Linked DNA regions of Homo sapiens. The protein of the gene in region 1 interacts with the protein of each later gene in a pairwise test. Each region holds a gene or a part of one and is shown on either strand. Other genes may lie near its edges. The genes, in order: KIF1B, PARP11, MLC1 and METTL27.

Region 1 (7,273 bases):
CCCAAGAGCAGAGAATTAGTACTATCAAGTGATCAGAAACAAAACCAAGGCAAACTCTCACCAAATTCAATATTCAGAGTAATTATCATTTAAAGAACCACCACTGAAGCAAATTCCAAAACCACTATCAAGAGGCAAAGGCTACCAGAAAAGCTCTATTTCCTTAAAAAGTATTTGGTTGTAACAGAAGTTAAGATTTGGCTTTAAGACATAAAAAGCCCAAAAGAGTACCTCTGTGGACTATTTTTTCAGGCTAAGGCTACCGGGAGATTTAAGTTCATTCTCCATTAAGGAAATTAAAGAATAGTGCTTGGTATCATTGAGACAGAAGCAATTTGGGTGAGTACTGCTCTGTGGAACAGGGAAAGTATGGGAACAAGCTGCCCTTTTCCCAACAGTTTAGCAGATTCAGGACTCCTACCAGTCTCTGCTGCTCCAAAAGAAGATCTGCTTCTTCCTTCTCCTTTTTGTATAAGATCTCCATTTCCTGTAGCCTAGAAGTAAAAAAAAAAAAAAAAATTCAAGAATGCTATTAGTATTACATGTTTAAAAGAAGAAACAGTCATATGGGCTGCGTAACTGTGCATTACCTTTTCTCCATCTCTTGTTTCATATCAATTCCTTGTTTTTCCAGAAGCTCCCTCTGGGCAAATGTCCAGTCCACAGGCTCAGAGGGGGTCTCAGCAGAAGGAGTCTTCTCTCGCTCAGCTCGTGCTTGTTCCGGGTGGTTAAAGCGGAAAACATGGTTTTTACCCATGATGATACGGTTTCCTAGCACAAAACAGAAAAATAGGGTTAAGAAATAATTTTTTTAATATATAGTATCTATTTAACAACCTCACCCCTCCCTAATGTGAAAAGACAGCTTTCAGAGCTGTTGTTTTTACAAGAACAAAAATCCTAATGCTGACTATTACTTCAGCCTTTAAACAGCCAAAAATTAGAGTTGTCACAGAAGCCATGTGCACATTGCTGAAGATGGCAAACCTCTCCCAGTCTCACCTGAGCGCAGCTGAACAGGCTGGGACACCCTCTTGCCATTTACGTAGGTTTCTGAGCGCTCACAGGGCTCTAAGGTCACGATAACTAAGAGGAACAAACACAAACTAATGTTATCATTACAAACTATTGGAATCAAATAATGGAAAGCAGTTGCTTATCAGGATTTGCAGTAAGTAGAATAAATCCCTGCAATCAATCAAGTGGCTGAAGTTGTCTATACAGTAGTTCATTTTGGGGTACCAGAACTAGCCCCAATAGAAGAGGCTATCTGTGGCCATGGCTAACACAAGAACATTTAACTCTATTTGATAAACCTAAGAAGATGATAGGAAATATTAGTTTCAGGGATCTCTGACGGTTCAGTCAATAAAACTCAGAACCATCAGAAATTGTAAGGATGAGATATAGGTAATAACCAGAAACTAAAGACTGAGAAGCTAATATTTTGATAAGGGAATGAGTGACTTATATAACAGAAAAAAACCATTAAATTGTTGTTTTGTTAATAACCCAGGCAAAAATCAAGACTGACTTTTTCTTCCCTTTTAGATAAAAATAAATTCTGCTGGGTTGACTTAATGTCCTTCAAATCTCCTATTACCCAGGATATCTGCTATTTTCTTACTTTTCTATTAAATAATTAACATTCCAGACCAAGCCTAATTGCCTATGTCCTTCTCAGTTCTTGGCAGTAAAAAAGGGCTTCTTTTGTCCAAGCTATTTTCATGTAAAGCAGCCTTGTCCATCTCTGCATTCATAAGCAGCCCAGGTCTCTCCATTTTTCAGAATTAGATTGTATAAGAAAGTACTACTGATAGACAGAGAATACAAAGTCTTAAGGATTTCTCATAATATAAAATGAAAATGTTGTTGCTGAAGCTCCAGCCAGGAATGCTCACCTTCCCCGCTGTTGCTTCTCTCACTCCGGAAGATACAATGCTCTTCTTTAATGTGAGCCCCGCTCAGCACTATGTCCTGGCGCCGCTCAGCATCTGCTTGGCCAACCCTGAACACAAGAGAAAGTGTTTCCCAGGGAAATTCAGACACAGAAAGCACTACAAACAATGAACCTCTTTATTCCAAAGAATATCCTTTGGTACGTACAAAAAAGGTATTGCCTTGTTGCATCAGAAGCTTTCAACTATGAATTCTATCCTCACATATGATCAACCTCTCTACATCAGAATAAGAAACAAGGAGCACTGATATACCAATGTAACTCATACAGTATTATAAAGACATGAGTCAAATAAAATCCCTAAGGAATGTATATTTGTTAAAGGAAAAAAAAATTATTTAGGGTCTTCAGAGAAAAACTACATAGTAACTGGCTCCAGTGGCAAAAACACATTATTTGGAAAGAGAGCATAGTTTGTAACTATTTCAGACAAAAAATACAGCAAATCATTACGTTAATTTTTTCAACCCCTTCCCTTTAGTTATTCAATTATCTAAGAGGGGGAAAACACACGAAGTGACCAAAACAGGAAATAAATATACCTTGTAATTCCATCTTTGATGTAATAAAGTAGGCACTCAGACATTAGTGGGTCTTCATTGAGGTTAACAAGATGTGGGGTCTGAAAAAGATTACAGATGATCAATTTGGAGCAGGGCACCATGAGAGAGCTGTGGTAACAACAGGGGCCTACAAGAGGCCAGGCTTCTCCAACTCTCCACAGAGCCTAGAGAGGGATTTCTTTTTATCCCTAGTTGCGGTTCCATAATAAAGAGAAAACACTCTCTTCAGGCCTCACCAAACGGAACCAAGTGCATTCTATTTTATTTTAATTAATTAATTAATTTGAGACAGAGTCTCGCTCTGTCTAGAGTACAGCGGCATGATTTTGACTCACTGCAACCTCTGCCTTCCAGGTTCAAGTGATTCTCCTGCCTCAGCCTCTCAAGTAGCTGGGATTACAGGTGTTCGCCACCACGCCTGGCTAATTTTTCTATTTTTAGTGGAGGCAGGGTTTCACCATGTTGGCCAGGCTGGTCTCGAACTACTGACCTCAACTGACCCACCCTCCTTGGCCTCCCAAAGTGTTGGGACTATAGGAGTGAGCCACTGTGCCTGGCATTCCATTTTAAAACATGAGTTCTGGGATAAAAAAACAAGACCTAATTTTTGATAAGGTCAAAGCACAAGGAAAAAATGACAGGCCAATTCTCTGAACGGAATAATTATAATTTTTGTAAATGCCTGGGTAAAAATCTCAAGAAATATTTACTTTTATTAAAATGTCCCCATACCCCCCCACCACTTCCCACTATAATTTTTATCAGTTCTTCTGATCCCAGTTATTAATTTGTCTTTACCTTAAAAGATTTTAATTTATTAGTCTTTACCTTAAAGAAAAAAGTAAAATTACTGATATTCGATAAGATAAACATCTTCTAACAATCCTCTTCATCTAACTCTAATATTTCTAAAATCTTTTTAAAAAACCAACCTTCTTTAGTGAAAATAACCCACTGGAATCCAAAAATAAGTCACATGGTCTTGAGGCCAAAATCTACTCAAGAGAGTGCCAGCAAATGTGGAAGAATGAAAGAAGAGTCAGATGAGGGGGTAGGAAAAGGAACTATAAAAGATGGTTAAAGAGAAATCTGAAAAACCTCCACATCTTCTCAACTAGCATCCCCCTTTGTAGTTGAAGAACTTGACTGGTTTGAGAAAGTCAAAGCCCTTTGTGAGTAGCATTCTTTAAAGCACATCATAATTTGAAAAATGGAATCTCAGAAACAGGTCCTAAGACTGAGTTTGGATGTGGTCACTGGTATATCCCTTCCTTTCATGAAGAAGTCTAGAAAGCTAAAGCAAGATGGGTAAAATTAAAGTAAGAAAAAGCTTTGGAAGCAGAGATCTCACTTTGGAATTCCATGCAGTGTACATCTCAACATTTGTTCAAGTTATTTATGATTTATGTTAAATGCATAATATTTTCACTAGTTGTTATAATAAAAATTTTCCAGCCAGGCACAGTGGCTCATGCCTGTAATCCCAGCACTTCGAGAGGCTGAAGTGGGTGGATCACAAAGTCAAGAGATCAAGACCACCCTTGGCCAACATGGTGAAACCGTCTCTACTAAAAATACAAAACTTAGCTGGGCGTGGTGGCATGTGCCTGCAGTCCAGCTACTTGGGAGGCTGAGGCAGGAGAATCACTTGAACCCGGGAGGCGGAGGTTGCAGTGAGCCAAGATCACACCACTGCAGTCCAGCCTGGCGACAGAGTGAGACTCTGTCTCAAAAAAAAAAAAAAAAAAAAATTTCCTCACAGTCTTTAATACTGTAAGATGTTATAAAATACCTTTATTAGACATATGCATAGGCACAATTAAATTCCACCAAAACTGTAACTGCTAAAATCTATATAATCCTAAGTAACATATCTGAATGAATACATGTCTTACTGAAGGAAAAACTATTAAAACTGTGAAAACCACTAACCTTTCATAATATAAACATATAAAATACTTAACTGTTCTATTCTACAATATGCATCTAAAATGTCTTTACATCAGTCTTTTCTGTTGAAAATAACACATTGGAATTTGGGAAGAAAAAAAAAAAAAAGTTATGTGGCCAGGATAGAAAAACCTGACCAGAAGAATTGTAGCGAAAACCACAGGAATATTTCATATCACATAAAAGTACCAATTCAAAACTCACCACCCCTTGTATCCTAACTTAGAGAGATCATCAACAGAACCTATGAATAAAGATGTTTAAGTCTCCAATAGCCAATGTGAGGTCACTTGAAATAAAGGACAATTTACTAGTGGCATAAAATACATGCTTTGTACATCGATATATGTTCTCCTATTTTCTGATACATAAGCACACAAAATAACCATTTGATAGTCATTTTCTAGTATCCAACAAGACGTTGCAACTTAGTTTAAGAAAAAAACAAAAAAACCCTTACTACTCTAATTAGCTAAAAGCTACGTAACTACTTCATAACTATGATTATGTAAAAAGGAAGGTAACTATTGGAGACACTTTTTAAAAAATGAAGAAGGAAGCAGAGGAGTCTAGAAGGATAGGGACAGGAATTGCTTTACTTAGTACAATGGCTGTCTATAATACAAATTGCAGAAGCAAATGGAAGCAGTATTATTCTCCACAAACCTGTACAGCTGAAATTGGTTCCAAAAAGTTATAAAGCAGGGTAGACGACTTCTGTGGGAAAATCTACATGAAAGAGTAGCCAAAACTGAAAGTACGCTAGGTTAGGCTGGGAATTTAAGAGAAAGCAACAAATAAAGATGACTAAACAAACTGAATCATGGCCAAAGGTTACATATTGCCTTAGGTTTTTTCTTTTGTAAACAGTAAACAAGATAGGCATTTTAGAAATAGGCTGCCTTTGTACTATAAGACCATGCTCTAAGATGAAATCAGAAATATCTGAAATTAAGGCAAGTATCAAGATAATAAGGGGGAGAGTAGGTCCTGAAAGACATGAAGTGCCCCAGTAACAAAGACAAACAAAAAGTGTCTCTGTCTGATTAGGTTTCACAGCATTGTTTCCTACCTTTTTAGGTGAGAAAACCCCTAGGGTTCCTCCATCTTCCCGAATGGCAACTCCCATCTCAGCCAACAAAGCCTCTCTAGGAAAAAAACAGGTATATCAGAACACTAATACCAAAATGTCAATTAAATCAGTCTAATATGAATTGGAAAATAAAGCCTGCAAAGCAAAAACAACTGGCCATGTTTATAGCCAATAATGCAAACATAAAATAATGTGCTTATCTCATCATTAATGAGAAGTTATTTCTAAAAGCAACATCACATTCAAAATCAATGAAATCTTGCTTTGTTAAAGTTATATTCACTGAGATAAGAACTTTGTCTCAACTGACTTTGGGATAGTCAATAATTCATAAATGATATGCATATTAATATAAAAAAGAAAAGAAGAGGCTATTCCTTTTTTTTTTTTTTGAGACAGAGTCTTGCTGTCACCCAGGCTGCAGTGCAGTGGCACCATCTCGGCTCACTGCAAACTCTGCCTCCCAGGTTCACGCCATTCTCCTGCCTCAGCCTCCCGAGTAGCTGGGACTACAGGTGCCCACCACCATGCCCGGCTAATTTGTTTTGTATTTTTAGTAGAGATGGGGTTTCACCATGCTAGCCAGGATGGTCTCGATCTCCCGACCTCGTGATCTGCCCACCTCAGCCTCCCAAAGTGCTGGCATTACAGGCGTGAGCCACCGCGCCTGGCCAATATGTTCCATTTTTATGAATCCCTAGCAACATGTAATATGGTAACTAATAAACCTGTGACTCCCTAGATAATATTTAAATATGTAGATGTCATTTCAAAGCATAAATTCAACTGGCCATAAATCCCTGTCCATTTTTTTGGTTTCGTTTTGTGTTTTAGAAGGGCAGACTCTTTGATTTTAATTTATATTTTATCTTTTCTTACGATAAAGTAATCCACATCCCCTAGAAAACTTAGAAACATTTCCAGATTTTAACCTCCTGACCTCTCCATTCTGATGGCCTCTGTTTTACGAAGCTTCTCTTCCCAAGTTTCATTCAACTCAGCAATGATCTTCTCTGATTCCTAAGGAAGGAAGCGCACAGTTAAAGAGGCAAAGAGTCTTATAATTTAACATACCATGCTAGAAAAGCAAGAAGCAAATCATGCCCTTTGAGGATACAGGCCAGAATTAAATGTAAAGAGATTTTTCTTTTATTAATACATAAGATAAGAATCATAAAGATTAGACCTAAAACTAAATCAACCCCAAACAAATAAATCCTCCAAGTCTTTTTTTTTTTTGAGACGGAGTCTTCCTTTGTCACCAGGCTGCAGTGGCGCGATCTCAGATCACTGCAACCTCACCTCTGGGGATCAAGTGATTCTCCTGCCTCAGCCTCCCGAGCAGCTGGGACTACAGGCACGTGCCACCACGCCCAGTTAATTTTTGTATTTTTAGTAGAGACGGGGTTTCACCATGTTGGCCAGGATGGTCTCAAGCTCTTGACCTCGTGATCCACGTGGGCATGGTGGCAGGCGCCTGTAATCCCAGCTACTCAGGAGGCTGAGGAAGGAGAATGGCATGAACCCGGGAGGCAGAGCTTGCAGCGAGCCGAGATCGCGCCACTGCACTGCAGCCTGAGCAACAGAGCAAAACTCCATCTCAAAAAAAGAAAAAAAAGAATAAAGTTCCCAAACGTATTTACTGCTTTTGTTTCACTACAATTTCGCCATAACACACTAACCTCCTGAACACAACCCAGCAGTCAA
Region 2 (7,273 bases), on another chromosome or scaffold:
TTTGTTTGCCCAGTCTACCACCTGTGCCTCATCTAGAGGCAGCTTCTTTTGGTTTTCTATGTGTATTGATCACATCTTTATGAAGTTTTTTTATGTCTCATAATTTTTTTGTTGAGAACTGGATATTTTAAGTAACATAGCAACTCTGGATACTGATCCCTATTGTGGTTGTTTGTTTGGTTATTGGTTTATGTGTATATAACAGTGATATAGCTGAACAAATTCTGTAAAGTCCATTTTCCTCACAGTGTGTAGCTTCTGATATCCCAGCTCAGACTTTTCCCCTCTTAACCTGACTACTTATGTGGCATTTCTGGATTGGCATAGACTATGTACTGGTCACAGGTTGTGCTTACATTCCCTGAGGTAGGTAGATTTTTACCCTTAAGTGTTAAATGTGTGTGTGGCTTGGTGGCTGCTATTATAGTTCAGGGAGTTTACATTTTTTTTTGTCCTGCATTTAGCCAGGTGCTAGAAGCTTGGAAGTTAGTTCCTGAGAGGGCCCAACCTTGAGCATGTACACAGTGTTCCAGACTGTCAGGGATGACAGTGCTGTTTCATTTAACCCTGGCTTCATAGGAATTACCCCTGGGTCAGAGTAGCTTCTGTTACGTCGTGTTTGGCCAGAGGTGGTGATTCAGACCCTTGTGCCAATGAAGTTTCTCCGCTCTGTCAGTGGGTACGTGTATAGCTTAGAGAACGTTTTCAAGACTGCCCCACGTTCTGCCCTGATCATTCCTGGGTGTACACAGCCTAGTGTTTTTATACTGCCTTTCTGACTCCTCTCTGATCTAAGAGGGCTCTTCTTGGCTGTCTCTGGTTCTCTGCATTAAACTTCTGCTTGCTCTGCCTTTCTGCTTATATTGGAGCTCCTAGCCTTTCTTAATTGTTTTTCATTAATATTTCCACTGTTTTCTTTCTTTCTTTTTTTTTTTTTTTTTGAGATGGAGTGTCGCTCTTGTCGCCCAGGCTGGAGTGCAATGGTGTGATCTTGGCTCACTGAAACCTTTGCCTCCTGGGTTCAATCAGTTCTCTTCTCTCGGCCTCCTGAGTAGCTGGAACTACAGGTGCACGCCACCACACCTGGCTAATGTTTTGTATTTTTTGTAGAGTTGGGGTTTCACCATGTTGGCCAGGCTGGTCTCAAACTCCTGGCCTCAGGTGATCTGCCCATCTTGGCCTCCCAAAGTGCTGGGATCACAGGCATGAACCACCACACCCGGCCCACTGTTTTTGATAATGCCCTTAGGCATGGGGTTCTGCTCTCTGTTCCAAATAAAGTCAGTCCTCTCAGATGGAAATGTAGAGCTCTTTGTCCTTATGGCTCGTCTTTACCCCTGAGCAAAGTCTCCATGCCACTGCTCCTGGGGCTGAAGGTGAGAGTCTTTTTTCCCCAGAGTAACACTCCATTCTTAGAGTGGGCAGTGGAGTGCTGGTAGCAGCCCTTGGTCTTCTTAGCTGACTGCTCCTGGCACAAAACCTCTACTCTGGGAGGAAGTTGGGGCGGTGGCAGTCAGGGCCCAGTATTTGCAGCCTGCTGTACCTGGAATAGAAATTCTACCTTTTGAATGGGGGCTGTGTAGGGAAAGAGAGACGGGTCCTCTGTGTCACCTCTCCAGAACAGAGCTTCTACACCTCTGGGCTGAAGGAGAGGAGAAACACCAGCAGCCTGCCCTTCCCGGGGTAAAACTAGCCACAGACTGGAAGCCTGAGGGAGAGGGAGCCCTCTGCCTGTCTTTTGGGTACATATACCGCAGGTAGAGGCTTCATAATACAGACCTGGTAGGATGTGGGGAATGGTGCAGTTTGTAACTCAAACGCCACAGACTCTGACTTGTTCTGAGATTGAGTACATTTTCTTGAATGAATGTTTCTCCACTTTTTGTATGCCCTTAGTACAGTTTCCAGAGACTTTAAATGTTTGTTTTTTAAAAAAATTTTCAGCAGTTTTTAATTTTTAATTAATTAATTTTTGTGAGGCAGGGTTCTGCCGTGTCAAGCTGGAGTGCAGTGGCGTGATGTTAGCTCACTGCAGCCTCAAACTCCTAGGCTCAAGTAATCCTTCCATCTCAGCCTCTCAAGGGGCTAGGACTATAAGCATGCATCAGCATGCCTGAGTAATTTTTATTTTATTTTTTTGTAGAGATGGAGTCTCACTGTGTTGCCAGGCTTGCCTCAAACTCCTGGCCTCATGCAAACCTCCCTTCTCAGCCTCACCAAAGCCCTGGGATAACAGGTGTGAGCTACCACGCCCGGCCTACTAGTTTTTAAAATGTAGTTTTGCCAGTTCCACTGAGCTCCTTATTCTGTCATTCTGGAAGTTCTCGTTCATTTTTAAGCTTTTAAGATCAGGTTTGAGATCTTCTTTATATGTAGAGGCAAGGAAGTTGTTATTACCAAATATGATTTCCTGAAGATACTATACTCATGCTAACAAAATAAATTATACTTTGTTGTAGTAAACTAAAATTTATATCAGAAAACTTGAAACCAGTCTGGAAGGCAGCCTTATTTTCCTTATATAGACCAGGATTTTGACTTTAAACTCATTTTCCACACAGCTTTTCAATTTGATGATTCAGACTGACTGTTCCCAGGCTCTGTAAATAAAGATTCTCTTTGTAACAGATAACATTACGGACAGGCTCTACCAGCATACCCATTGCCCTTGAAACTTTACAAAATGCTTTGCCGCTTTGTACTAGCTTTTTCTTCTTCCCAGCCTGCTTCTAATTACAAACAGGAAAATCAGACAGGATATGGCATTGTGACTGAACAAGTTCATTCATCTAACATTATTAAATACCTGCTTCATAACCGATAACTGGTGAATATTCTTTTTATTACCTATAAATGTGTCCTAGCCTAGAGCCATTCTTACTATGGTTGCGATATTTTAAAGTTATTAATTTAAATTTGACTTAACTCTTTGAGCATAATTATGCAAAATAGTCATTTCTTTGGAGAGAAAACTTACTGTAGAAAATGGAAATGTTTAATCTTATAAAATGCATCTTTTTAAAGAAACCCAGAGCATCTGTGAAGCAAAGCAATTAAACTAAATGTTAGCAACATAGGAGAGGAGAAATAACTGTCCATGTGTGAAAAGGAGACAGTGGGGCTTGGTAACTTAGGGGAAGAAGTGATGTTCAGGAGGCCTTAGGTGTTGCTTTAATATTCTCTGTACTGCTAGCTGTGAATCTAGACAAAAAATTGTATTATTCTCTGCTTCGGTTTTTTTCCTGACTTTAATTGGAAAATAATCACTTATCTCTCCTGCACATTGGATTGTGGACGAAAAAAATAGTGTAATTTGATAAGGAATTGTATAAGATTTGAAGTGCTTTAGGAATGTTCAATACAATGGTACCTGTCCCACCCAAAGCGATTTATAACAGAAAGCTCTGAAAGGATGTTGCTGAAACACTTTCATTTATAACCTGGCCTAAAGCGAAGTCTTAGGTAAGGTGTTTTATAGCGGAGCACACATGTTATATGTATGCTGTATAAAGGGAACTTTCCTATTTTCTATTCTCTTTTCTAATAGAGAAAAGATAGAACTCGTAAGGCAAATATTTTTCTTAACTATTAGCTCCAATCTCATTCTTCCAAATTTTTCTGGTTATTTTCAGAAGAAAAACTAAATTTAGGTCACACTTTCTTTCCTTCTCTCTTTCTCACAGTTAAATGGCCCAATGAAATGAACATTAATAAAAAAAAGCAGTAGGAATTGTGAATAGTTTACTGGACAGTTTGGTCTTAAACTTTAAATCATTGTCTTTATTATGTGGTTAAAATATATAAGGTAAATAGTGGGTCCTAAACCAGAAGGCTTTGATCCTAGGGTGTTCTATTTTTCATTTCTTAGAAGCCAACCAAATTTAAAACATGAAGAAAAAAATGGGAAATAATCATAAAGCATTGCTTGAGTTTCCAAACATATATAAAAAATAACAAACCCCCTTCATTGAGGTCAGGCACTGTTATAAATGAACTTGTCTCGTTCATTTATAACATTGTCTCATTCATTTATAACAACATCCCAATGAGGAAGGAGTCTATCATTTTTCATTTTGTGAAGAGCCAACTGTGGCCTAGACAAGGCAATTGAAACTTATTCCAGGTTGCTACAGCTTCTAAAAATAGGATGGACATTTTAAATGATGAAATTAAAAGGCAAATATTTTCTAAATTACCCAGTAGTACATATTCTTTGTTAAAAAAATCAATGATACAGGAAATCAAATTTTTAACAAATCATCAATAACTCTATATGTTTTTATGTGTGTATAATTATACACACACAAACAGAGTGAGAGAGAGAGAGAGATCTGAAAGATATGCAGTGAAATTATAGCATTGGCTAACCCTGGAGAAGAAAAGTGAGAAGGTACCAGGAATGGAAGTGATGGTTAAAAAAGTCTTTAGCTTTATTTTGAAAGTTCTGATTTTTTGCAAGAAGAATATTTTTTATGTAGTAGTTGTATAAACTTAATAATTTAAAAACCCTCAAAGAATGAGGACAGGAAGCCAAATTCCAGATTGAGTTTAATTTTCTTTGACCAGCCTCTTTGTCTCCTTTCTAGAGACTTCTTCATTACAATACCCAACCAAGAATGTTTAAAACTTTTCAAAGATAATGCATATGTGAGTTAATTGGTATAGCTAAAATTATGAAATCATTGATAATGAAGTATAAGACAGTATATGACGGCGGCTAAGTGCGTAGACCCTGAAGCCAGGATGTTGGGTTTGAATCTTGACTTCCTTGTTGTATGACCTCTCTATGCCTTAGTTTCCTCATTTATAAATTTGGGGTACTGATAGTACCTGTCTCTAGGTTGTTGTGAGACCTAAATGAATTTTCATCTGTGTAGTCCTTAGAACAGTAGCTGGCACGTAGTAAGTAATATAAAGGTTACTATTATTGTTATTGTATCCTGACACTTAGAAAAACTGGTGGTAGATTGTTATATATACATCCAGACTTTTTTCTATATATGTGTGTAAACATTTACATACACTTACACAGATACAGGCACGTTCACAGGAGTAAGTATATTTTTATTAAAATTGGATTATACTATTTCTATTTTTTTGTAATCTTTTACACTCAACACCATATAAATATCTTTCTATGCCATTAAATGAAATGACTGTTTAAAATAAAAATTAGATGCATTTGATCTTAACCAGCGTGATAGCATGGGTCCTTTTGACCAAATACATGAGCATAAGATAAAATTGAAAATGCTTGGGGCTATGCTGAAACCTGAAGTGCTTATTGATGTTGATATAGCTTACTTAAATGGTTGAATAGACACTGGCATATTCTACCTAAGATTATTATTACTTGCCTAAATTGTTAAGCAATGATGTCCAACATTTTTAATGTTTATCTTCAGAGCCAATATGAAAGATAGAAAGCTGTTTTTAAAGTGTCATGGGAGGAAAGACACTTGAATACCACTCTTTGTAAAGAAGTAAAATGATCTGTAAAAAGTATACTTGTTATTAATAGAATTATTTCTTCCTCCACCTCCTTCTGGCTTTTCAGGAGATGTTTCACAAAGCAGAAGAATTATTTTCTAAAACAACAAACAATGAAGTGGATGACATGGACACGTCAGATACCCAGTGGGGCTGGTTTTACTTGGCAGAATGTGGGAAGTGGCACATGTTTCAGGTACCTCCTTTCCTTTAATTTAGCAGAAGTGTTTTCGATTCACTTAGCATCACCTTGCTGATGTATGTAAAATGAGTATAAATATAGAACTTGAAGTCAAAGCTTAAGGAAATAAAATTGTTTAACTAAAAGAAAAGTTAGAAATTCTTCCAGTGCTTTTCCTTTTCTTTTCCCCAAGTTTTCACACTCATTTATTTAGAAGAAACAATAGAGGGTGAATGTGACTGAGAGTTGCATGGTGTCAGTACATCTGAGCAACTCCAAGTTTGGTTTGGTGGACAAAGAGAAAGGGAAGAACAAATCCGTATTAAACACTTCTGTATGCCAGGTATTATGTTAGGTGTTGTACATTGATTTTCTCCCTTATCCTCACAGTAACTTGGAAGCAGATGTTAACATTCTGTCTTACAGTCAAGGAAAGTGAAACTCACAAAAGTTGACATAATTTGTCAAGGGTCACACAGCTAGTTAAACTGAGATTTGAATCCGCACTCAAAACCTGTAGTCTTTTTTTTACTCTACTAAACTATATAAAGAAGATTTAACTTGAGCCACTTAGAAAGTATAATTATTGGAATAATCTGTAAAAATTGTAATTATCTGGAAAAATAACTATATTTCTATATATATCTGTTATTGAAGGGGACTATAACCAGTTGTCTCTTCACTGGAGATCCTTAAACCATTTTCAATATGCTGGCTTAGTTGTGATTCTCCCTGTGTGTTGGGAACTAGAACAGGTGATTAGTAAGTTTCCCTCGCCCCTCCATTCCCTGTCTCTATGACCACAGTACCACCTCTGTGGCCAAGTCATTAATGTGAACAGCTGGTAAATGAAACTTTCTGGTTTGTCTTAAAGCCGGATACCAACAGTCAGTGTTCAGTTAGCAGTGAAGATATCGAAAAAAGCTTCAAAACAAACCCTTGTGGCTCCATTTCTTTTACTACTTCCAAATTCAGCTACAAGATAGACTTTGCAGGTATGTTTTTTTCCCTAATAGTTGTGTGTTTTTAGTATATTGATATGATAAAATCTACAGCTCTGAAGGTCAGGATTAGTTGATATATTTGCAAACAGTGAAGTATATCTTTTTTGTTATATACAAAAATACCTCTATAAAAATTCAAGTTTTAAAATCTTGAGCAACATTGCCTTTTATAAAAGGTGTGTTTATATGTTTGTATATATTAATGTATGTGAAGATTGTCTTATATATTAAGTGCATTTAATACTTGTCTTCTAAGGAACACAAAACACCGTATCAGTTGTTTTATTCATCCCATCAGTCTTTTGAAATAGATAAGAACATTTAAGAACATTTTTACTTTTTTTTTTTTTTTTTTTGAGACGTCTCACTGTGTTGCCCAGGCTGGTGTGCAGTGGCATGATCTCGGCTCACTGCAGCCTCCGCCTCCCGGGTTCAAGCAATTCTCTGCCTCAGCCTCCCGAGTAGCTGGGATTACAGGCACCCGCCCCCACACCCGGCTAATTTTTTTGTATTTTTAGTAGAGACAGCGTTTCATCATGTTGACAAGGCTGGTCTTGAACTCCTGACCTCCTGATCCACCCGCCTCCACCTCCCAAAG
Region 3 (7,273 bases), on another chromosome or scaffold:
GTCCTGCTGTTGCCCAGGCTAGAGTGCAGTGGTGTGATCTTGGTTCACTGCAACCTCTGCCTCCTGAGTTGAAGCGATTCTCCCGCCTCAGCCTCCCGAGTAGCTGGGATTACAGGTGCCCGCCACCACGCCCAGCTAATTTTTGTTATTTTTAGTAGAGACGGGGTTTACCATGTTGGCCAGGCTGTACTCAAACTCCTGACCTCACGATCCGTCTGCCTCGGCCTCCCAAAGTGCTAGGATTACAGGCATGAGCCGCCGTGCCTGGCTGGGAATTCAGCTTTATTTGTGCATCTGGAGTTTTGTGCCTTCTGGACGCAAGGCCTGGCTGCCCAGGTCCCTTCCGGCCCCCAAGCCCTTGCTGGCCCACTCCTTATGCCTGGCTTTCCTGCTGGCCACAGCTCTGTGTTTGCGACTCACAGAGATCCTTCACGGGAGCAGGTTTTCGGGCGTGTGTTTCTTCCCCAGCCCTCCCTGAGTCTGGCGGTGCTGGTTGCGGCCCCTCCCTGAGTCTGGCGGTGCTGGTTGCGGCCCCTCCCTGAGTCTGGCGGTGCTGGTTGCGGCCCCTCCCTGAGTCTGGCGGTGCTGGTTGCGGCCCTGATGGTGCCGGGCAGATGAGTCCACAACCAGGGCTTAGGCCAGCAGGGTTCTTGGCTTTGTCCAGGAAAGAATTCAAGGGCGAGCTGGAGGTGACAGACAGCAGCTTTGTTTGCAGTGGCAGTATAGCAGGGCTCTCCAACCGGCAGGTGCCTCGAGCAGCAGCTCAGAGACAGCTCTGCCTCCTATTTATACCCACTTTTAAGTATATGCTAATTAAGGGGCAGATTATGCAGAAATTTCTAGAAAAGGGGTGCTAACGTCCAGGTGGTTGGATCATTGCCACGGAAAGGGGTGGTGACGTCCAGTGTTGCCGTGGCAATGGCAAACCCACATGGCACGGGTGGGTGTGTCCTATGGGAAGCTACTTCTGCCCCAGGCCTGTTTTCCCGAGTCCCTTCGATGGGGTCCAGGGTCTGAGCACCGCCGCCTGCCACACTGTGAGACAGGGAAGGGAGTCTGAGGGTCTTGGTTTTCTGCCCTCACCACTGTCAGGTCAATACCCTCAGTTTCTGTGGACAAAAGCAGCAGTGGGGGAAACACCTCTTTGGCTATTTTACTCCAGGAGGGACGTGAAAAGCCGCAGCTGAGGGCAGAGGGGGTCTGGGCCAGGTGAGGCTGGGGGTCCATCCAGGTGGGCTCCTCCACGGTTAGATCTGGGGCCAGCCCACTGGACCCTGCTCCTGGGGGTCCATGTCTGCACAGTGCATTCTGGGAATCTGGGGGTGTCTCCACTTCCTTATGAGCCGATGCTGTCCTGTCCCCTCCAGGTCGTCGAGGTAATCGCAGGCATCTCTGCCGTCCTCGGGGGGATCATTGCCCTGAACGTGGATGACTCAGTTTCAGGCCCACACCTCTCAGTGACGTTCTTTTGGATCCTAGTGGCCGTGAGTAACCCCTCTGGCCCGCCCGCCGCCGCTCTGGGCCACACTGCTCAGATCCTGCGTGGCTGGGCCCCGAGCTCAGTCTTGGTGCATTCAGACAGAGAGTCACCACAGAGGGTCCTCGCTGGCCCCCAACTTCAGAAGAACTGGGGAGTTAAGGATTAAATGAGTCAAAGTATTAACTGCTTTTATATTAGTTTGTGTGATTATTTTATATTATTTTTCCTGAAAAAAATACCAATTATTTTTATTATTCTAATCTTTTTAACATATGAATGTCAGGCTGTAGATGTTTATTATTCTATATAATTTTCTAATATATAATGCATTTATATTACACTATGTGTTTCATACAATGCAGCATATTTCTGTTATTACTTTACATTAAATGTTACTGCAGCAGATGTGTCACACAGCACCTGACACATGCCACATGCTCAATACATGGGCATTGTTTTATTTATTTTATTTATTTATTTTTTTGAGATGGAGTCTCACTCTGCCACCCAGGCTGGAGTGCAGTGGCTCAATATCACCTCACTACAACCTCTGCCCCTCCCCGGGTTCAAGTAATTTGCCCACCTCAGCCTCCCAAGTAGCTGGGATTACAGGCGTGGACCACCATGCCCAGCTAATTTTTTTGTATTTTTAGTAGAGACCGGGTTTTGCCATGTTGGCCAGGCTGGTCTTGAACTCCTGACCTCAAGTGATCTGCCTGCCTCGGCCCCCAAAAGTGCTGGGATTACAGGTGTGTTCCCTCAGAACAGTGAGTCTAGAGCAACCCCTCCACACCCCAGATCCCCTCACAGCCTGTAGCCCACCCAGAGCCACCACCCACCTGCCTCCGGACGCAGACCCCACGAGGTTCTCAGCACCTTGCCGCGTAGTGGCCTGCACACCGGTGTTGACGGCCAGCCCCTGGTTTGTCTCATGCTGTGTGGACTTTTAGATTTTGCCCCTGCTCTCTTATGTACATGAGCAGGAATGGTGAGCACCCAGCATCAGCTACAGGCTCCTCCTGGGCAGCAGTGGGGCTCTTCCTGAAGCTGCCGAGGCCCATGCCTGCCTGGGAGCAGTATGGCCAGGTGGACTGCCGAGAAGGGGCCCACGCCTGCCCGGGAATGGTATGGCCGGGTGGACTGCGGAGAAGGGGCCCACGCCTGCCCGGGAACGGTGTGGCCGGGTGGACTGCCGAGAAGGGGCCCACGCCTGCCAGGTGGACACATCCCATTGGCAGCAGCTGTGTTTCAGCTCCCTGTGGGGGCGAGTAGGCACAGAGCAATGCCCCCAGGGCACCAGTGCCCGACCTAGTGGGCTGCTGAGGCGCTCAGAGAGGGAAAGAGACCCAGGCAGGACCGAGCTGGGATAGAGCCACACCCCCGGAAGGGGTAGGACCAGGCCCAGCTACTGAGACAGAGAACTCACATGGGTGCCCACCCAAGCGGGTCTGTGACAGAGAGAATGACGCCTGCAGGTGTGTACAACTGACCCTGGGGTCTGAAACGCAGGGATTACATCCCGAAGCTGAGGGAGGACAGAGACCACATACCTCCAAAAAGTTGAGAATGAAAGGCACTTGCCCTACCCCCTTCCCTGTCCCTGCAGTCAGCCCTCATCACAGAGGCCCCTCCCATCCCGCAGACCCCTCCTGCCTCGGGGGTGGCTCTGCTCTCTCCATCTTCCCGGAGAGCACCCCCTGCCCATCAGGTGCTGCCCCCTGGGCGCCCCTAAATCCACCCACACTCCCAACCCTCTCTTCAGGGCAGGAGACCCCAGGAGGAGAGGAGAGCGCTGAGGCATGCGTGGTGAGGGACCCAGCTCCACCTGCCTGAGTCTGGCCTGGGTGCGGCAGAGGGGCCCAGGCCCTGCACCATGGGCTGGAGGCAGGTGCTCGGGGCTGGAGTTGGGGGCTGGGCTGCAGGCCTGGACCCTTCCAGGGCAGGGCCCTTGATTGAGCTGCCCCAGCCCCTATGGCTGAGCTTCCTGGCCCTCTAGGGCAGGGGCCGGAGTGGCCATGCTGGGTGAACGGGGAAACTCCCGCCCTCCCATGGCTCACTGGGGCCCTGAATAGGCCACCCTGAAGCCACCATCCCTTCCTGTGCCCTCACTGCTGCTTACAGCTAGAAGGCCCTTTCAGAAGCACCAAGCCCAGGAGAGACCCCTGTATTGACACCTCAGCCTCCCTGGCCAGGGCCACACCCACCTCAGCAGCTGGCTTGGGGCCTTTGCACTGGCAGCCCCTCAGCTCCCCAGTCTTCTCCCTGCTGCCCAGGCTCCCCTGCTCGGAGCCCATCTCTGTCCTGCCCACCCTCTCACCACAGCCCCTGGCTGATGCAGCCCCCTCCCCAGCAGGCCGGGCTGGGGTGCTGGCACCTGGACACCTTCGGGGAGATGAAGAGGATGAAGAGCATGCATCCTCCCTCTGCCTACATTGTGCGGAACTAAGGCAGGCTCCTCACAATAAGTGGGAAAAGGGCATTTCTTGGTTATAAAAAGGAAGAGGTGCCCATCCAACAGAGGAACCTACAGATCCCCCTAACCCAGTGAGTCAAGTCAGCGTCATCAGGAAGGGGCAGTCCACACCCTGGGGCACTGCAGAGTCTCCTCCGAGGCTCCCCAAGGCTCATCATGAGGAAATCCTGTCCCACACGGAGGCCCGACTGCAGCTGATGGGCTGCACCCCCCAGAAGCGACCAGGTAACGGAGGTGACAGAGGCTGAGGGACTCCCCGATTAACAGGGACCCACAAGGAGACTACGAGCTCAATGGCAGACCGAATCCGGATCAGGAGCAAACAAACAAACAGCTCTAGAAATAACATGACCAGGGCCAGGTGCGGTGGCTCATGCCTGTAATCCCAGCACTTTGGGAGGCCGAGGCGGGCGGATCACCTGAGGTCAGGAGTTCGAGACCAGCCTGGCCAACAAGGCGAAACCCCGTCTCTACTAAAAATACAAACATTAGCCTGGTGTAGTGGTGGGTGCCTATAATCCCAGCTACTCAGGAGGCTTGAACCTGGGAGGTGGAGGTTGCAGTGAGTCAAGATCGCGCCACCGTACTCCAGCCTGGGTGACAGAGCAAGACTCCATCTTAAAAAAAAAAAGGAGAAGAAGAAAGAAAAATTATTAAAAAATTAAAAAGAAAGAACATGATGAGGACAACTGGAAGAATCTGGGCATGGACCACATCGGCCCCACGTGGAGTCTCTCGAGCGTGGTCCTGCTTTGGGTGTGTGCAAGAGTGTGCCCTGGGCTCAGCCAGCACTCTCAGGTGTTCAGGCATCAGGCTATCTGGGAGAGCTGGAGAGAGCACAGATATGAATGTCAAGGACTCTGGTGATTTTGGGGCCTCAGATGCCCCCTCCACTGCTCTTGCAGCTTTTCTACAGGCTTAAAATTTTAAACCAATGGTTGAGGAACAGAGAGCACACAAAACCTCTGAGAGGCTACCCCTGCTTCCCTGCGGACCCGTCCCTGCCCCAGCTGCGCCTTTGGGCACTGCACCATCCCCCCTGCCCCCCACAGCAAGCCAGCCAGGCAGCCTGCATGGAGGGGTCACTGGTGGGAGGGCACATGTTTGGAATTCGACTTCTTCGACTATTTCCTCTAAAATCTTTCCTTTTTCTTTTCTCTTAGTGCTTTCCAAGTGCCATTGCCAGTCATGTGGCAGCAGAGTGTCCCAGCAAGTGTCTGGTGGGTGAACCCCTCAGCCCTGGGTGCCAGGGACCCACCGAGCGGGGCCAGGGCCTGGCCTAGCCCTCCCTTGGTGCCATGTGACCAGGCTCCAGCCCAAGAGAGCGCAGTGACTGGGCTGCAGGGCCTGCACAATGAGGAAGGTGGGGTTGTGGGAGGTGGAGGCTGGCCCGCTCAGCAGGGACTGTTCTCAGGGACAGGCAGACCTGAACAAGGTGGTGTAGACACTGGAAGCGCTCTCTGTGCCTAACCCTTGGAAGGAGACCAGTGTCTGAGCATCATCTGCACCTCCTAAGGCTGGTCGATTGTTTTTTTTTCTTTTTTGAGATGCAGTCTCGCTCTTGTCCCCCAGGCTGGAGTGCAATGGCACGATCTTGGCTCACTGCAACCTCCGCCTCCCGGGTTCAAGTGATTCTCTTGCCTCAGCCTCCTGAGTAGCTGGGATTATAGGCGCCTGCCACCATGCCCGGCTAATTTTTGTATTTTTAGTAGAGACGGGGTTTCACCATGTTGGCCAGGCTGGTCTCGAACTCCTGACCTCAGGTGATCCACTCACCTCAACCTCCCAAAGTGCTGGGATTACCGGTGTGAGCCACCACGCCCGGCCGAAACTGCCACAAACTGACCGCAAACAATTGAACTGGTCGATCGTTAATGACTGCTGCCAAAATGTGGACCCTGAGTGCTTTGCAAGGTGACTGCCCATGCTTGGCATGAGTGAAGGCTGTCTCTGAGACTTGATGGGTCAAACAGGAAGATTTGGGGTGGGTTAAAAGGACAGACTTCAGAGCAGTGAAGGAGGTGACCCATGCGGAAGGGCTATTTTTTCAAGAGTGGAGAATTGCAGGTAAATGTTTTTTGTTTCTTGGTTTTGTTTGTTTGAGACAGAGTCTTGCTCTGTCACCCAGGCTGGAGTGCAGTGGTACGATCTCAGCTCATTGTAACCTCTGCCTCCCGGGTTCAAGCGATTCTCCTGCCTCAGCCTCCCAAGTAGCTGGGACTACAGGCATGCGCCACCACACCCGCTTAGTTTTTGTATCTTTAGTAGAGATGGGGGTTTCACCATGTTGGCCAGGCTGGTCTCGAACTCGTGACCTCAGGTGATCCGCCCTCCTCGGCCTCCCAAAGTGCTTGGATTACAGATGTGAGCCACCTTGCCTAGATGGTAAGTATTTCAAAACTTGTGGCACTGTGCTGTGAATGAAAAGGCAGGCTGCTCATGCCTGTAATCTCAGCACTTTGGGAGGCCAAGGTGGGTGGATCACAAGGTCAGGAGTTGAAGACCAGCCTGACAATATGGTGAAACCCTGTCTCTACTAAAAATACAAAACAATTAGCCAGGTGTGGTGGCGCATGTCTGTAATCCCAGCTACTCAAGAGGCCGAGGCGGGAGAATTGCTTGAACCCAGGAGGCAGAGGTTGCAGTGATCAGAGATTGTGCCACCGCACTCCTGCCTGGGCTACACAGCTAGGCTGCCTCTCAAAAAAGAAAGAAAGGCAGGCCGGGCGCGGTGGCTCATGCCTGTAATCACAGCACTTTGGGAGGCCGAGGTGGGTGGATCACCTGAGGTCAGGAGTTCAAGACCAGCCTGACCAACGTGGCAAAACACGGTCTCTACTAAAAATACAAAAATTAGCTGGGTGTGGTGGCGGGCGCCTGTAATCCCAGCTACTCGGGAGGCTGAGGCAGGAGAATCACTTGAACCCGGGAGGCGGAGGTTACAGTGAGCCAAGATCATGCCACTGCATTCCAGCCTGGCGACACAGCGAGACTTGTCTCAAAAAAAAAAAAAAAAAAAAAGAAAAAGAAAAAAGAAAAGGCAGAGGTTTCAGCAGGAGTCATGCAGGGAACCAGCTTGGGACTATGCCCATGAGTGCCCGGCCATGCCCGCCCCCCCAGCCCTGGCCACGCCCGCTGTCCTGGGCTCCCAGGCTCCGGCCGTGGTCCTGCAACCCGCGCTTTTTTTCCAGGTGGAGGTCCTGATTGCCATAAGCAGCCTCACGTCTCCGCTGCTGTTCACAGCCTCTGGATATCTGTCATTCAGCATCATGAGAATCGTGGAGATGTTTAAGGATTACCCGCCAGCCATAAAAGTGAGT
Region 4 (7,295 bases), on another chromosome or scaffold:
CTGGGTTCAAGCGATCCACCTCAGCCTCCTGAGCAGTTGGGACCACAGGCACGTACCACCACACCCAGGTAATTTTTGAAGTTTTTTGTAGAGACAGGGTCTTCCTATGTTGCCCAGGCTGGTCTCAAACTCCTGGGCTCAAGCGATCCTCCAGCCTCGGCCTCCCAAAGTGCTGGGATTACAGGTGTGAGCCACTGCACCCAGCCAATGGATCATTTTAATACATCTCCCACCCCAAACTGTTTTCTCTTCCCCAAGCCCCCAAGCTCCCTCTGTCACTTTGGCAGCAACTAGACTTGGTGGGAGGGGAAGCTTGATATCCACGGCCCGTAGTATGTAGGGTCCAGCCCTATGGGGCTTAGCGGGTGTTCTCCCCGTGTGCGGAGATGAGAGATAGTAATAAATAAAGACACAAGACAAAGAGATAAAGAGAAAACAGTTGGGCCCGGGGGACCACTACCATCAAGATGCAGAGACCGGTAGTGGCCCTGAACCGGCTGGAAGTGCTGATATTTATTGCATAGGAGACAAGGGGGCAGGGTAAGGAGGGTGAATCTTCTAAGTGATTGACAAGGTGAAGCAAGTCACATGATCGTAGGACAGGGGGCCCTTCCCTCTTAGGTAGCCGAAACAGAGAGAGAGAAGGCAGCATACGTCAGCGTTTTCTTCTATGCATTCATAAGAAAGACCAAATACTTTAAGACTTTCAGTATTTCTTCTATCGCTGTCTACTACGAACTTCAAAGAGGAACCAGGAGTAGAGGAGGAACATGAAAGTGAACAGGGAGCATGACTATTGAAGCACAGCCCCACAGGGAGGGGTTTAGGCCTCCGGATGACTGCGGGCAGGCCTGGGTAATATCCAGCCTTCCACAAGAAGCTGCTGGAGCAGAGTGTTCCCTGACTCCTCCAAGGAAAGGAGACTCCCTTTCGTGGTCTGCTAAGTAACGGGTGCCTTCCCAGACACTGGCGTTACCGCTTGACCAAGGAGCCCTCAAGTAGCCCTTATGTGGGCGTGACAGAAGGCTACCTCTTGCCTTCTAGGTCACTTCTCACAATGTCTCTTGAGCACCTGACCCTATACCTGCCAGTTATTCCTAGGTTATATTAGTAATTAAAAGCTAATGATTAATAATGTTTATAATAATGATTGATAATTGTCCATGATCATCTCTACATCTAATTTGTATTATGACTATTCTTATTCCATTTTCTTTATTATACTGAAACAGTTTGTGCCTTCAGTCTCTTGCCTCGGCACCTAGGTAATCCTCCGCCCACAGGAGTGAGAGGGTCATTTTCAGCAAAAGACACAGAAAAGGCTTTGAGGCTCCAAAAACTTAAGACTTGAGGGGAGTAAAGGATTAGAGGCAAAAAAAATAAAACTTGATGAGTCAGAGAAAGGCCTTCCAGCCCCAAGGCTAGAACAGGCTCCTGGGCCAAGGAGGAGAAAAACCGGAGGAGGCTTGTGCTTTGAGGTATTTCAAGATGTTTCAGGCACATCTCATACTTTTCCTGCCCCAAGCGTTTCAGTCATTTCATCAGCTGTTTCTCTAAGGAGCTCTGGTTCCTTTTAGTTGATAACGCTTTTTTTTTTTTTTAAAGAGATGGGGTCTCGCTGTGTTGCCCAGGTTGGAGTGCAGTGGTGCAATTTCTGCTCACCGCAACCTCCGCCTCCCAGTTTCAAGCGATTCTCCTGCCTCAGCCTCCTGAGTAGCTGGATTACAGGTGCGTGTGCTACCACTCCCAGGTAATTTTTGTATTTTTAGTAGAGACGGGGTTTTACCATGTTGGCCAGGCTGGTCTTGAACTCCTGACCTCAAGTGATCCACCCGCCTCGGCCTCCCAAAGTGCTAGAATTACACACATGAGCCACTGCACCTGGCAAGAATGCATTTTTAGAACCAGATCTGGATGCTCGTTGTGGTGATTACTACTGAAGCGTTAATTGTGTTTAGGTCATTTTGGCAGACAAAGCTAGGAAACTCACAAATACACACACATACATGTATGTCTATTTACATATCTTTCCATTTATTTATGTTAAAACCCATGAGTTTACTCTAATATCTCCCACTCTCCTCCAACGCTACAGGGTTCCTTCTACTCATCACCCTGTAAAACCAGAAAATCTAAGACAGGTCTCAGTTAATTTGGAGAGTTTATTTTGCCAAGATTGAGGACGCACGCCTGTGACACAGCCTCAGGAGGTCCTGACGTCATGTGCCCAAGGTGGTCGGGGCACAGCTTGGTTTTATACATTTTAGGGAGACACGAGACATCAATCAATATATGTAAGAAGTACATTGGTTTTGTCTAGAAAGGTGGCGACAACTCGAAGCAGGGAGGGGGCTCCGGGTCACAGGAAGGTGAAAGACAAATGGTCCTATTCTTTGAGTTTCTGATAAGCCTTTCCCCTGTAATCTCAGCTACTCAGCAGGCTGAGGCAGGAAGTGGAAGTTGCATGAGCTGAGATTGAGCCACTGCACTCCAGTCTGGGTGACAGAGCGAGACCCCATCTCATAAAAAAAGAATGCCTTCACCATCTGGGAATGCAGTCCAGTAGGTCTCAGTCTTATTTTACTCAGCCGCTATTCAAGATGGAGTTGCTCTGGTTCAAACATCTCTGACACTTCGACACTTCTACCCCCTAAACATCTCTGAAGATCACCCACTCCTCTCCGCAGTCATGACCTCTACCCAAGGTCATGCAACCATCACCTCCTGCCTGGACACCTGCAACAGCCTGCCAAATTCTGCCTGCCCAAACCCTTGATTCCAACACAGGTCCTCTAGACCAGCGCTTCTGAACCTTCAGCTGCCTAGAAATCGCCTGCAGAGTTTGTAGAAACACAGAAACTCTGGGCCCCAGTCCCAGAAATCTAATTCTCATTCAGAAGGTCCCAGGTCAACTGAGAATTTTTACTTTTTTTTTTTATTTGAGATGGAGTCTTGCTCTGTCACCCAGGCTGAAGTGCAGTGGCGCAGTCTCTGCTCACTGCAATCTGTGCCTCCCAAGTTCAAGCTATTCTCCCACCTCAGCCTCCTGAGTAGCTGGAATTACAGATGCCCGCCACCACGCCCGGCTAATTTTTGTATTTTTAGTAGAGATGGGGTTTTGTCCTGTTAGCCAGGCTGGTCTCAAACTCCTGTCCTCAAGTGACCCGCCCACCTCAGCCTCCCAAAGTGCTGGGATTACAGGTGTGAGCCACTGCGCCCCGGCCTAATTTTTGCATTTCTCACAAGCTTCCCTAGGGCATCTCCTAGAGGAAACCAAGATGTTACGGAGGCTGACGCTGCGTATCTTCAGGTCACACTTCCAGCCGCAAGACTCTCTCTGCTGTCCAATACAGTAGCCACTAGCCACATGTGGCTATTTAACTTATTAAAATAAAATTTGCCAGTACGGTTTTTTAAAATAAAATTATTAAAATAAAATTTGCCAGGAGGCAGAGGTGGGAGAATCGCTTGAGACTAGGAGTTTAAGACCAGCCTGGACAACATTTTTTGTCTCTACAAAAACTACGAAGATAAAAATAAATAGATAAAAATTTAAAAAGCCGGGCAAGGTGGCATGCACCTGTAGTCCCAGCTACTCAGCTACTCAGAAGGCTGAGGCAGGAGGCTGGCTTGAGCTTGAGTTCAAGGCTGCAGTGAGCTATGGTCAAGCCACTGCACTCCAGCCTGGGCGACAGAGTGAGACCCTGTCTCATAAAACAAAACAAAAATAAAACAAAATAAGTAAATATAAATACAAAGTAAAAATGAAAGCTAATCCTAGGTCCCTCTCCTGCCCATAAGAATTCAGAGACTCCCCAGTGCCTACAAACCTCATGCTTTCAGGAAGCATAAAGGACTTCAGGAGGCAGGAGGGCAGTTGGAGGGGGATGGTGGAGGTGCTGCTACCTGACGGTGGAGGGGGAGGCCGGGGCCAGACCACCGAGAAGCCCCTAAACCCGCACAGCAGGAAAACATCTCCGCAGTCCCTGCTCTACCAAGGCTGGAGGAGGGCCACAAGCCTTGAGCTCATTGGCTGGCGGGGGGGGGGGGGGCGGGCAGACTGCCAGCGCCTTCCTTTGACTGGCTATTTTCTCTCAGCGGAAAACCAATCATTGCGGGCAGGCGGTGAGGGTGTGGCCAGGGTCGCAACACAGGCCCCGCCCCGAGTCCTGTTGCCCACACGCCCGAGGCGCGCTGGATTGGCGGTGAGTTCTGACTCCGGCCTCCTTCGAGACCGTTTCGCTCCGGATGTCGCCCACCTCCGACCCTCTCTCAGTCGGAGGGCGGAAAAGAGGAAGATAGGTCCTTCCTCCAGCCGCGGGGCACCCCCTTCTCCCACCTTGCCCTTCCCCCAGCCCTGCAGCCCCAGAGTGTAAATATCCAAGCCCGCCCTCTCTGCGCTCAGTGTCCCCATCTGGGATAGGGGCCGGGATAGGGGTCGCGCTGGCAGGAGGCCTGGCAGCCTCCTCTGAAGGGGGAGGAGGGAAGGGGGAAAGGAGGGGATGGGCGATTGAGGTGGACCTCGAGACAGGGCAACGGTGTCCCCACAGGAGCATGGCCCAGGAGGAGGGTGGGAGCCTGCCCGAGGTGCGGGCGCGGGTCAGGGCCGCGCATGGCATCCCCGACCTGGCCCAAAAGCTCCATTTCTATGACCGCTGGGCTCCGGACTACGACCAGGTAAACTCATTTGGGGCCTTGCCTCCACTAGACCAGCCTCCATTTTTCTACCTGTAAAGTGGGGAATCAGCCTTGCACCCGGGGGCGGCTGTGAGGACGAAGTGAGGCCTGGCTAAGAACCCTACAGTCCTGCCCCTTCCAGAACCCGCCCCACAGCTCTGGATTGGCAGCCCCATCAGGGGCCATGACCTCCTGAGGGGGGCTGCCTGGAGGAGGTGCTATTGAGAAGTCACTGTGGGGCCGGGCGCGGTGGCTCACAAGCCGTAATCCTAAGCCCTTTGGGAGGCCGAGGCGGGCGGATCACCTGAGGTCAGGAGTTCGAGACCAGCCTGGCCAGCATGGTGCAACCCTGACTCTACTAAAAATACAAAAATTAGCCAGGCCCACGTGGTGGCAGGCGCCTGGTAATCCCAGCTACCCTGGAGGCTGATGCAGGAGAATTGCCTGAATCCGGGACACAGAGGTTGCAGTGAGCCAAGATCTCTTCACTGCACTCCAGCCCGAGTGACAGAGGGAGACTCTGTCTCAAAAAAAAAAAAAAAAAAAGTCATGTGGACTCAGCAGAGAGAGCCGCTTGGCCAGGAGAGAAGGTCCCTGGAGGGCTGAGTCTACTGTACAGTGGGCTGGGGGCTAACTCTCCAGTCCTGGCCCTTTAGCAATGGGAAGCACCTCATGCCTGGGCGTCCCCTCACGCTAGCCCCAGCCAGGCTTGATCCCCAACACACACAGCTTAGCCTGGCAGACTCTGAGACCACCCCATAAGGGAGATCCCCCAAACACTGGGGCACCGGTGTTGTAGGCCCGGCACTCTTTCCCCAGGATGTGGCCACCCTGCTGTACCGTGCGCCCCGCCTCGCAGTGGACTGCCTCACACAAGCCCTTCCAGGCCCGCCCCACAGTGCCCTGATCCTGGACGTGGCCTGTGGCACAGGCCTAGTGGCTGCCGAGGTGAGGCTCTTCCAGATCCCCTGCCTACTCCTTAGCCCCGCACTTCCTCAAATCTCCTACTGCCCCTGGCCCCAGAACCCTGCCCCACACCTCAGACTCACTGTTTCAAATGCATGAGACAGGACCAGGCATACTGTGGCTCACACTATGGGAGGCCGAGGCAGGAGGACAGCTTGGGGCCAGGAGTTTGAGGTCAGCCTGGGCAACATAGCAAGACCCCTGTCTCTACAAACAGATTTAAAAATTAGCCAGGCAGGGTGGTGCACGCCTGTAGTCCCAGCTACATGGGAGGCTGAGGTGGGAGGATCACTTGAGCCCGGAAGTTCAAGGCTGCAGTGAGCTATGATCACGCCACTGCACTCCAGTTTGGGCGACAGAGAGAGACCTTGTCTCAAAAATTTAAAAAAAGCAAATGCATGGGCCACATTCAGTGCAGAGTCCACTGCCCTGCCAAGGTGCAGGGACCCAGCCGGGAAGTGGCAGGTGTGAACCATGACTGAGTCTCCCACCCCTACCCCAGCTGCGGGCTCCAGGCTTCCTCCAGCTGCATGGGGTGGATGGGAGCCCAGGGATGCTGGAACAGGCCCAGGCCCCCGGCCTCTATCAGCGCCTCAGCCTCTGCACCCTGGGCCAGGAGCCTCTGCCCAGCCCGGAAGGTACTTTCTCTCCCACCTCCACACCCCGAGGCCCACCCTCATGAAGCCCTTTCCCTTGCTGATCCTCCATCCCTCTCCCACACTAAGCTCCCAGTCCCTCACTCAACCCTGCACCCCACGATCTGACTGCAGCCCAGAACTGGGCCATACTTACCTTATCCTCTAGGGGACCTGGGTCCTGCAGATGCGGGTAGTAGCCTCGTCCCACCCCTAGGGTGGTCTGAGGCCACACCATAGACAAAGTACCTTCCAAGCATCACACCATGTCCCCACCCCCCCCCACACACACACAGGGACCTTCGACGCGGTGCTGATAGTCGGTGCCCTCAGTGACGGCCAGGTGCCCTGCAATGCGATACCTGAGCTACATGTCACCAAGCCAGGTGAGGAGCAGCCCAGCCAACCACCCCCAACCCCCGTCACCATATACCTTCCCCTGTGCATAGTGCAGACACAGGCCCCAGAGCCCCTCAGGCTAAGCGAGGGGCAGCGTCCTGCCCAGCGTCACACACAGCCTAGCCTAACATCCCAGCCACCAACAGCAGACCCAGGCAAACAGGCCGGGCAGACAGGTGGCCAGCTCGGCTCTTATCCATGGACAACCAGGAGCAACTCCACCCTCCTCTGCAGCCTCCTTTTCCCAGTCTGGGAGTCAGGTGGTATAAATGCTACAATCCAGTCCCCGTAGGACTGCAGTGAGAATCAGGTGAAATCCTGTCTCTAAGGTTTTTGCTTTGGTCCTGACCCACAGTGAGGGCTCAGTTCTGTTCCTTCCTCTCACTGCTTCCTCACTCATTCATAGACTGCCTTTGGAGCATCTCTTTCTCTTTCCTGGTCTCAGTCTTCTCATCTGGGAAATGGGGCTGCTCAGGGGAGATGAGAGCTGTGAGCACCGTTTGTAAACTTTGCACATTGCGCTGCCCGGGCAGGTGTGTTTCCCGTCTCCTGCTGTGTTCTTGCTCAGCGCTTTGTTCTGCTCTGGGCAGAGGGCTCAGACCCTGCCCTCTGGGCCTT

What was found.
Region 2: the proteins of KIF1B (region 1) and PARP11 interact in binary tests that used the Homo sapiens proteins (3 or more experiments, as listed by UniProt).
Region 3: the proteins of KIF1B (region 1) and MLC1 interact in binary tests that used the Homo sapiens proteins (3 or more experiments, as listed by UniProt).
Region 4: the proteins of KIF1B (region 1) and METTL27 interact in binary tests that used the Homo sapiens proteins (3 or more experiments, as listed by UniProt).

The regions. Positions count from the first base shown.
Region 1 is NC_000001.11:10,290,395-10,297,667, reverse strand, and holds part of KIF1B (kinesin-like protein KIF1B), read right to left. Parts: intron 6,587-7,273; coding exon 6,507-6,586; intron 5,622-6,506; coding exon 5,546-5,621; intron 2,583-5,545; coding exon 2,503-2,582; intron 2,009-2,502; coding exon 1,902-2,008; intron 1,087-1,901; coding exon 1,003-1,086; intron 772-1,002; coding exon 591-771; intron 495-590; coding exon 422-494; intron 1-421. UniProt on the Homo sapiens protein: Has a plus-end-directed microtubule motor activity and functions as a motor for transport of vesicles and organelles along microtubules.
Region 2 is NC_000012.12:3,828,303-3,835,575, reverse strand, and holds part of PARP11 (protein mono-ADP-ribosyltransferase PARP11), read left to right. Parts: intron 1-5,557; coding exon 5,558-5,686; intron 5,687-6,545; coding exon 6,546-6,666; intron 6,667-7,273. UniProt on the Homo sapiens protein: Mono-ADP-ribosyltransferase that mediates mono-ADP-ribosylation of target proteins. Plays a role in nuclear envelope stability and nuclear remodeling during spermiogenesis. Inhibits the type I interferon activated signaling pathway.
Region 3 is NC_000022.11:50,068,427-50,075,699, reverse strand, and holds part of MLC1 (membrane protein MLC1), read left to right. Parts: intron 1-1,367; coding exon 1,368-1,484; intron 1,485-5,116; coding exon 5,117-5,173; intron 5,174-7,144; coding exon 7,145-7,267; intron 7,268-7,273. UniProt on the Homo sapiens protein: Transmembrane protein mainly expressed in brain astrocytes that may play a role in transport across the blood-brain and brain-cerebrospinal fluid barriers. Regulates the response of astrocytes to hypo-osmosis by promoting calcium influx.
Region 4 is NC_000007.14:73,839,400-73,846,694, reverse strand, and holds the start of METTL27 (methyltransferase-like protein 27), read left to right. Parts: upstream 1-4,178; 5' UTR 4,179-4,205; exon of another isoform or gene 4,206-4,372; intron 4,373-4,550; 5' UTR 4,551-4,554; coding exon 4,555-4,677; intron 4,678-5,496; coding exon 5,497-5,625; intron 5,626-6,145; coding exon 6,146-6,281; intron 6,282-6,574; coding exon 6,575-6,664; intron 6,665-7,295.